Linked DNA regions of Homo sapiens. The protein of the gene in region 1 interacts with the protein of each later gene in a pairwise test. Each region holds a gene or a part of one and is shown on either strand. Other genes may lie near its edges.

Region 1 (3,524 bases):
CAAAAAGCCCCTGGCTTCTGAGCAGGTACCCTGTGCTGGCTGAGCACCTAATATCTAATAGGTGCTCAGTGAATGTTCACAAAGGCAGGTGGGCAGAAAACCCTTGCTTTTCTCTGGGACGGGCAGGGTAGTATAGGTGTGTGGTGAAGCAGGCCTTTCCTCCATCCGTGTGTAGAATTGGTGGGGTCGCCAAAGCCCTGCCCACACTGACTGCCTCTCTAAGGCCAGATTTCCAAGGAGGAGCTATCCTGGGGAGGCAGAGGATGCTGGTGAGAGCCCAGGGGCTCATGGAGTGGGAGAGCAATAGTTGTCCATCCAACTAGGTGCTCTGCCCAGGAGCTCAGGATTCCTTGCAGGTCAGTACCCCCCAGCTATCATGTGGTCCAGAGGACCCAGCACAGAGATGCCCACCAATCCCTACCCCTCTCAGGGCCTCAGTCATCCCACCTGTCAAGGGGGTACAATCTTTCCGACCCCACCCAGTTCACTGAGGCCAATAGAGCCAACAGCACTTCGGAAATAAAGACTTGGTGAACGCATCATACAAATAAATGGGGTTATTAGACCCAAGAGCAGGGTCAGAAGGAGAAACAGCAAAAACGGGGAGTAAGTGCCCAGGCTCCTGCCCCAAACCCCTTGAGGAAAAGAGAAACAGGTGTTGGGCAGGAAGAACAGCACCAACAGGGAGGAGAGAGAGGGGATTGGGTCCCGGCTCTACCACGGACCAGTCACTTTCCCCAGGACTCAGTTTTGTCACCTGTATAATGGGGGAAGCACAATCCTTGCCTGACTCCTTCCAAGAGCCTCAATTAGGCTTCGGTGAGAGAGTGGGTATGGAAGAGCTTTGCAAACTGTAAAGTGCAGTACACACATGCAGGCTAGCTGTGGCCCTGGGGCCCAGGCCCAGCTGGGCTCTGCGGAGTGGGTACAGTAAGTGTTGGCAATGAAAACACTGCTTGAGGCTGAGCCTGGCCCTTTGAGCACCCTCAGGTCCTCCACATCTGTTCCTCCTCTCAGGTGCCCACAACTTCCCTGGCACCTTTTACCCTGGGTGGCTGAGGCCTGGGAAGATGAGGCGCTCCTGGCCTGGGCTGGCCCCGCCTCCCACTCTGAACCCTCTGGTCACCTCTGCTCCTGATGATGATGAACAAATGCAGACCTGGTGGTGGGGAGCAGCCGTGCCCTGCACCCTCTTTTCCCTAGTCATCACCCTTTCCATGAGGTCTTGTGCGAGTCACCCCCATTCCTGGGTGAGGGTTAGAATGACCGGTGGTGATTTCTTCCCCACAGCACTCCAAGTGGATGAAGAGCAGCTCCTGCCCGCTGCTGGCAGCCTCAGGCCCAGGGGCCTCCACCCCGCAGAGGCCTGAGCCAAGCTCGCCATTCGCCCTGGGCTGGATCTCAGCTCCGGAAGGAGACGTCGAGAAGAGGCTGCCAAAGAGCCTGGAGGGGCCACTTCAGAGCAGCGCCTTGAAGAGGAAGGAGAGGGAGGCTCCACAGGAAAGTCCCAGGGCCAGGAAGAAGGTCATGAGGGCGCCGGCCACCTCCCTCTCGTGTGGCAGCACCTGCCTAGAACACCCGGGAACAGGAGCTCTTAGAAAATGCTGGGTCTAAATCTGGACCCAGCTCCACTGCCCTCTGCCCATCCAGTCTGGGCTCTGACCCAACCCCTCTGTCACCATAACTGGCCCCTTCTTTCCGGGCCTCAGTTTCCTGGTCTGTAAATGAGGCTGCTGGATAAGGATGTCTCTCAGGGCCTCTGAGTCTAACATGATGGGATTCCAGATTCCACAGCCTGCCCTTTCCACAGTGCTCTCAGCCTGTCTGCCCTGCCAGCTTCATTCTCTCTGGATTCTCCACTCCATTGCCCCTTGAGGAAATAGCCCATGACCTTGTTTTTGGTCAAAACCTTAGCTCTCCTTCAACTGAGAATTTTACAGTTAGATGGGCCCTGAGGGATGACAGTTCAACCCATTTTTTTTTACAGATGGGGAAACTGAGGCACATTGAGGCGGCCCCAGAACCAGTGCCTGGGCTACTTGGTTGGGCGGGTACCTCCCTAGCCCAGTTCTCTCCCCTGCAGTTAAGGCTTGGCCCAGTAGGGGGCGCCAGCAAGGCCTGCAGACAGCTAGGGTTGGGCTGGCCAGAAGCAGGATGGGCCGTCCCTCCATTGCAGGCGGTCCCTTCCCAAAGACTGAACCCACCTCCCTACTCCCAGCCCCCCACCCCACCCCATTGCCCCGGACCTGGGCGCCAGGCACATGGTGAGGGACACCAGGTAGCCATTAGAAACGGCAAAGAGCAGCATGAAGGTGATGAAGTAGGCATCCTGTGGGAAGAGGATGGGCAGCCGGGACCTCTGGGGCACGTGGCACAGCATGAAGAGGGGCACGAACAGGAACCGCAGGCAGACCAGCAGGGGCAGCAGCCGGCTGTCCTCGTCTGGCTGTGGTAGAAGCTGAAGTCAGCATGGTCCCTGGAGCCAGGTCTCTGCTCCAGGGCATCTCAGGACACCCATAGAGTACTTTTTTTTTTTTTTTTTTTAGATGGAGTCTCGCTCTGTTGCCCAGGCTGGAGTGCAGTGGCCCTGATCTCAGCTCACTGCAACCTCCACCTCCTGGGTTCAAGAAATCCTCCTGCTTCAGCCTCCTGAGTAGCTGGGACTATAGGCGCCTGCCACCACCATGCCCAGATAATTTTTATATTTTTAGTAGAGCCAGGTTTCATCATGTTGGCCAGGCTGGTCTCGAACTTCTGACCTCGAGTGTTCCACCTGCCTCAGCCTCCCAAAGTGCTGGGATTACAGGCGTGAGCCACCATACCCGGCCTCTATTTTTTTCATTAAAAATTTGTGTGTGTGTGTGTGTACAGACAAAGTCTCACTGTGTTGCCCAGGCTGGTTTTGAACTCCTGAGCTCAAGCGATCCTCTTGCCTTGGCCTCCCAAAGTGCTCGGATTTTAGGGGTTTTTTTGTTTGTTTGTTTTTGAGACAGAGTCTCGCTCTGTCTCCCAGGCTGGAGAGCAGTGGTGCGATCTCGGCTCACTGCAGCCTCTGCCTCCCTGGGATTACAGGTGTGCACCACCACACCTGCTAATTGTTATCTTTTTAGTAGAGACGGGGTTTCACCATGTTGGCCAGGCTGGTCTCGAACTCCTGACCTCGTGATCCACCCGCCTCGGCCTCCCAGAGTGCTGGGATTACAGGTGTGAGCCACCGCGTCCAGCCCCAGAGTGCTAGGATTATAGGTGTGAGCCACCACGCCTGGCCCACCCATAGGATAGACCCATCTGTCACCCCCTGACCTCCTCTGACCTGACCTACCTTGTGAGCCAGTGAGGGAGGACCCAGCACTGGGGCCTGGGCCAAGTCCACCCAGAAATCAGGGACTGGCCTGGGGCTCACCTCTGCCTCTCCCAGGCTCCAGCTTGTGCTCTCCACCGCATCTACAGTTTACGTACTCGGTTCCTCAGAGCACCCACTGGTGGTTCCACAGACCCCCTTGGGGGCAGATGGGGTTTCTGAG
Region 2 (3,654 bases), on another chromosome or scaffold:
AGTCAAGCCTGTGGGCTGCTGATAACTGTGGGAAGGCCGGGGATGTGGCATCCAGCCCGTGGCTCAGTGGAAACATGCCTGAAGGAGGGCCACCACACTGGAAGCTTATTAGCAGAAGAGCCAAGTGACAGCGGTCCCAAAATAGATCCCTCAGGCACTCTCATTTATAATGCCCTTGTATCTGAACTAACACTGCTTAAGGATTCTGAGTCACATTTAGCCTTAAACCACCCTTGTCAGCACAGCAGCTCTCAGCCAGCCACCAGGGAGCAAGCATTAGCAATGCATTATCACACGCGCTCTGCACGGGTGCAGAGCATGCCTGAAACACGGCCTCCCGAGGGCTCTCACCTCTCCAGGGCTTCACAGATGGGAGCCAGAGGTCAGGCAAAGTCCTTTCAACAAAAAGCCTGCCCTTTGAACCTCCTTGAGATGCACTTTATAGAAGGAGAATGAACAAAGGGAAGTCTGAGTTACCTTGGCTGCAAAGTAGCCCCGCAGACCAGAGCACAGCGAGGAAAGTGGGGTACGCATCTACACAGTTCTGGCTGCAGAATAAACAAACAAGGAGAAAAACAATCAGAGACCAAGTTAGTGCAATGTGGTCTGAAAATTACCTGAAAGTTGAAGTTAATAATCACCATCGTGCATGAAACATAAATCCCATTCGTAATTCCACTTACATCTACCCAATAAGATGGGGCAGCCAGCTGCCACCTGGGAAACAAACAATGGTATAAAGCAAACACATGTTCATAATCCATTAACTCTGTTCCTACGGTGATGCGTAAGGGAGACTTGGTTTCTTGATGTATTCCTCTGGCAGGGTTCCTGTTCCTGGCGGTGCCCCTGCGCTTCTTGGAATTGAAGAGTGAGCAATGCAGACAGAGGATGTGGCCACACTGGCATGGGGGTGGTCGGGGAGAAGAGCCCAACTAAGGAAACTTTTCTATCAGATCCACAAATCAGCCCAGGTCTGCAAGCCAGGCTGAGCAAAGAAGGGTGATCTTCAAATGTTAAAGACAACAAAGTCAACTCAAAAAAGCTGGTGCTCAGAAACTTAGCTTACTAAGAGGGTGATCACTGTATGCTGGGCACAGTCCTCACTCCCTGGAGAGTTCTCACTCTACCGTGGATGTTTTGCACCCTTCCTCTCTTTTTAACTCACCATATTCCTGTGAGTTCACATGATAACTGTATGAGTTTCCTCTTGCTGCTGTAACAAGTGGCCACAAACTGAGTGGCTTAAAACAACACGCCTTGTAATCCCAGCAATTTGGGAGGCTGAGGCAGGCAGATCACAAGGTCAGGAGTTCAAGACCAGCCTGGCCAACATGGTGAAACCCTGTCTCTACTAAAAACACAAAAAATAGCCAGGTGTGGTGGCAAGCACCTGTAATCCCAGCTACTCAGGAGGCTGAGGCAGGAGAATCACTTGAACCTGGGAGGCGGAGGTTGCAGCGAGCCAAGATCACACCACTGCACTCCAGCCCAGGCAACAGAGCAAGACTCTGTCTCAAAAAAACAAAAAACACCCTTTTACTATGGTTCAGGATGTCAGAAATCCAAAATAAATCTCAAAGGGCTATAAAGTCAAGATATTAGCAGGGCTGCAATCCTTCTGGAACTTCTAGGGGAGAAACCATTTCCTTGCCTTCTCCAGCTTCTAGAGGTCACCTGTATTCCTTGACTCAGAACCTCCTTCCAACCTGAAAGTCAGGGATGGCCCATCAAATCTTTCTTATTTTGAATGACTCTGACATCTACTCTTATGCCTCCTTCTTCCACATTAAAAAGACCCTTGTGGTTACATCAGGTCCTACCCAGATCATCCAGGATAATCTCTTTATTTTAAGGCCAACTGGCTAGCTGCCTGAATTTCCCCTTGCCATGTAACATAACATATTCACAGGTTCCTAGGATTAGGATGTGGGCATGATTGGTGAGGGGGCCATTATTCTGCCTATCACAATTGCTCTCATGTTTCCAATAAGGAACTCAGGCTTGGAGAAGCTGAATAACTTGCTCAGGGTCATCCAGCTAGGGAGTGGCAAAGCCGGGATTCACACCATAATCAGTCTGTCTCCAAAGCCATGTCTGTTAACTCTTCAACTATACTAAATTAAATCATAGGTGTCCTCCTGAGAAGTCTGCAGTCCAGATCAGGACAATAAATATGCCCATCCATGAAAAACAGTGTAACTAGACTTGAGAGGCATAAAAAGGGAGGGAAATAAATACAGAGGAAAGGTCACTTGACTAGGATTAAAGTCTCCATCCTGACTTTAACCAGCTGTTCACCATTGGCAAAACAATCTCTCTGGATTTAGTTTCCTTATCTGTAAAACTGAGAGACTGATTATAATTCTGAGGTCCATGTGAATTCTCACAGTCCATGGTCGAAGGTGGCAGTTCTCCAGGCATGCTCTCGGGACCAGAGGCGGCAGCAGCATCGAGAACATGTTAGAAATGCAAATGTTCACACCCACCTCAGGCCTTCAGAATTTAAAACTCTGTGTTGGGGCCCAGAAATCTGTTTTAACAAGCCCTCCATGTGATGCTGATGCCTGCTGACGTTTGAGAACCACGGGTTTCATGTGATTATATAGGTAAAAACAAAGATGCAATTTTCAAACTGCTCATGCAAACCATTAGGGTCTCATGCCTCAGTGGTACCACTGAGAACTTGGGAATGGCCAGCCCTTCATCTGTGCCCTGCAGAGAACCCAGAGAGATCAGGTTATCTGCGCCTCACCAATGGAATCTTCGTGGTCCTCTGATGGTCAAAAGATCCTTTTCTGGAGAAGTCTATGAAGGTAACAGATGAGAAACCTACCCTGGAATCCAGGCACAACCAAAAACCAGGAACAGGACAGAAAGAGCAGACCCCTGCTGACCTTGCAAAGTGCTCTGAATCCCAGAATTTCCACTGATCTAATGGACACGGTAGGAGCTCCAAAGGGCAGGAGGCCCCTACAAATTTATCACTGGGGTGAAGTGCTTAGTGAATAAACAGGTCCCCAAGTAACAATTGCAGCAGCTACTGGGCACTGGCATCACATCTATTCTTATATGTTACTAGAGGCACAAAATTGCAGCCTCAGGACTGAGAAAATATGATTCATTTTCCAGTTCAAGAAACTTAGAGAAAAAATTCCTTTTTTGGTTATTCGAATAACATTCTGTGTCTGATGGGGTAAAATATCTGGTGCTCTTATTGTTTAAAAACTTATTAGTACCAAAGATTTCCCCTGCTTCCTTCTCTTTCTCATGTTTCGGGTCTTTGGTTTGTTTTTAAGTAGCGATTTTGTCTGGGTTATGCAAAAGGAAAAAAATTCTTAATTGTCTAAGGGATTTGCTCATTAGAAATGTGAACTGCCTAGTGATTTGACATTGGGTCCGTATTCAACCATTCCTGACTATTAGTTCAAGTCACCTTCGTTCCTAATAAAACATGGTCAGCCTGGAGTTGAATGAAATTCTCCCAGCTGTAAGAAAATGGGTTCCTCCTGTGGATTTCCAGAATATTCTCAGAGCCTTGTTCCTGGCTCTGGCTCAAGCCAGTCCCTCTCGCCATCCAGGACTTCAAGTGCAGCTTCTACCCAAAGCTGCAAGCTTATGTGCCCCTCCTGGAGAGGGGGTTGCTGCTGGGCT
Region 3 (2,637 bases), on another chromosome or scaffold:
TTAACCTCTCTGAGCCTCTGATTCCTTGTCTGTAAAATAAGGGATAATCGTACCTCCTCTAGAGGGCTGCTGGGGGGACTAGACGGAATAATGATGTAAGGTCTCTAGCATAGTGCTTGGCACAGAATATAAATTCAATCAACAGTCACTATTGTTAGGATTGTTCCTTTGCCATTTCCATAAACACGTATCGAGTACCTAATACTACAAAGTACCATACCAGGTACTACATCCATTAAGAATGTTAATAATTAATCACGCTCATTTGCCATTGATTTTAAGTTTCCATTTTATTAGTGTCAGGTGGTTTTACCAATGGCCTCCCTTTCCTTCATGCTTACACTAAAAAAAGAACAACAGTAATGATTGTATGTCATGCTTTTCTGTGATGAGCCTTGATGTTTTTAACAGAATTTGATAGTTTGAGACATAAAAATTTTTGAAAAACCAACTCACGTTTCCAAACAAAAGTGAAAAGGAGAGCTGGATTCCAGCCCCGCCACCCCAGCAAATTGAGAAATCACCCCTTGCTGTGAGTCAGTGGGTCCCTATCCACCCTCTCCACCCTGTCCACTCTCTCCACTCTAACCACCCTATCCACCCTATCCACCCTATCCACCCTGTCCACCCTGTCCACCCTGTCCACCCTATCCACCCTAACCACCCTATCCACCCTGTCCACCCTGTCCACCCTAACCACCCTGTCCACCCTGTCCACCCTGTCCACCCTGTCCACCCTGTCCACCCTGTCCACCCTGTCCACCCTATCCACCCTATCCACCCTATCCACCCTATCCACCCTATCCACCCTATCCACCCTAACCACCCTAACCACCCTAACCACCCTATCCACCCTAACCACCCTATCCACCCTATCCACCCTATCCACCCTGTCCACCCTGTCCACCCTATCCACCCTATCCACCCTATCCACCCTATCCACCCTATCCACCCTATCCACCCTGTCCACCCTGTCCACCCTATCCACCCTATCCACCCTATTCACCCTCTCCACCCTCTCCACCCTATCTACCAAATACCATATGGATATCTCATGCATGGGAGCCCAGATTGGGTGGTCCTGGCCCTCATGGGTTGCATATGCTTCTTTGCTGCCTGTGCTGTAAGAACCATGCTAAGAACAGACCTGTGCCCCTGGGCTCTCAGCAGTGCATGTGCCAGGGAGCTGTGGGTGTGGAAGCAGCAGGAAAAACAGCTGTGCCAGGTCGGGGAGGGGAAGGGACAGAGAACCAGGGGCAGGGAAAGAGTTCCAAGCTCCTTGGCCACCGGCCACCATGTGCTCATGGCCTCCTCCCCGGCTGTCAGTTTCCCTATCTGTAAAATGAAGGTAATCAGGCCAGGAGTGGTGCACTCCTGTAATCCAAACACTTTGGCAGGCTGAGGTAGGAGGATTGCTTGGGCCAGGAGTTCAAGGCCATCCTGGGCAACATAGTGTCTCTACAAAAAAAAAAAAAATGTTTTTTTAAGTAGCCAGGCATGGTGGTATGCACCTGTAGTCTCAGTGACTCAGGAGGCTGAGGTGGGAGGATCACTTGAGCCCAGGAGTTTGAGGCTACAGTGAGCTGTGATTGTGTCATTGCACTCCAGCCTGGGTGACAGAGGAAGACCCTGTCTCAAAAAAGAAAAGAGAGAGGAGGGGGGAGGGGAAGGGAGGGGAGGGGAGAGGAGAGGACACAGAGGTAATTCAAGCCTTTCCAGCTTGAAAAGGAATCAAATGTGACAAAGAAGACAGATGTTTATGAACTGTACAGAACTGACTTGGAGAAAATGTTTTGAAAAAGGCCAAAACAGAAGAAAATGTGAAAGAGCTTTAAAATGTTCTAGCCCAGGGGCCTGGGGGCAGGGGTGCTGTTGGAACTGGGATGGATGGATCGGGGAGATCAGGGGAGCAGAGCCAAGATTCCCTCTAGAGTTAAGGGCAGATGGAAAGTGGTGCTTGGAGAAATGCAGGGCCACAGGGAGGCAAACTCAGGGTCTGCCTGATCCGTGTAAACAATAATTAAACCTAATCTTATGATCTAGTGACTTGTAAGAACAGCCACCACCTACAGCTACCTAGTTGTGCAAATGTTCACAATATTATGCTCATACTAATATACAAATGTTCACAATATTATGCAAATGTTCACAATAATATGCAACACTTAATTTGGCAAACTCCCAGGCTCAAGTGATCCTCCTACCTCGGCCTCCTCAGTCACTGGGACTAGAAGGTGCATACCACCATGCCTGACTAATTACAAAACCTTTTTTTTTTTTAGAGACACCATGTTGCCCAGGCTGGCCTTGAACTCCTGGGCCCAAGCAATCCTCCTGCTTCAGTCTGGCAAAGTGTTTGGATTACAAATAACTTACTACTTGCCAAGTTCCTTTCTAAGTGTTTTTGTTTTGTTTTGTTAATTTTTAAAAAGAGACAGCGTCTTACTATGTTGCCCAGGCTGGTCTCAATCTCCTGGGCCCAAGAGATCCTCCCACCTCGGCCTCCCAAAGTGCTGGGGGTTACAGGTGTGAGCCACCATGCCTGGCCCCTTTCTAAGTGTTTTACACATACTGATTCATCTATAGCCCTTCAACAATCCAATGAGGAAGGTACTATTTTTATCTCTATTTTACAGA

The links.
Region 2: the proteins of SLC29A2 (region 1) and ALOX5AP interact in a two-hybrid assay, tested with the Homo sapiens proteins (one large-scale study listed by BioGRID).
Region 3: the proteins of SLC29A2 (region 1) and SERINC2 interact in a two-hybrid assay, tested with the Homo sapiens proteins (one large-scale study listed by BioGRID).

The regions. Positions count from the first base shown.
Region 1 is NC_000011.10:66,361,979-66,365,502, forward strand, and holds the end of SLC29A2 (equilibrative nucleoside transporter 2), read right to left. Parts: intron 2,447-3,524; coding exon 2,247-2,446; exon of another isoform or gene 1,570-2,246; coding exon 1,458-1,569; 3' UTR 543-1,457; downstream 1-542. UniProt on the Homo sapiens protein: Bidirectional uniporter involved in the facilitative transport of nucleosides and nucleobases, and contributes to maintaining their cellular homeostasis. Functions as a Na(+)-independent, passive transporter.
Region 2 is NC_000013.11:30,748,946-30,752,599, reverse strand, and holds part of ALOX5AP (arachidonate 5-lipoxygenase-activating protein), read right to left. Parts: intron 549-3,654; coding exon 478-548; intron 1-477. UniProt on the Homo sapiens protein: Required for leukotriene biosynthesis by ALOX5 (5-lipoxygenase). Anchors ALOX5 to the membrane. Binds arachidonic acid, and could play an essential role in the transfer of arachidonic acid to ALOX5.
Region 3 is NC_000001.11:31,430,142-31,432,778, reverse strand, and holds part of SERINC2 (serine incorporator 2), read right to left. Parts: intron 1-2,637. UniProt on the Homo sapiens protein: Non-ATP-dependent, non-specific lipid transporter for phosphatidylserine, phosphatidylcholine, and phosphatidylethanolamine. Functions as a scramblase that flips lipids in both directions across the membrane.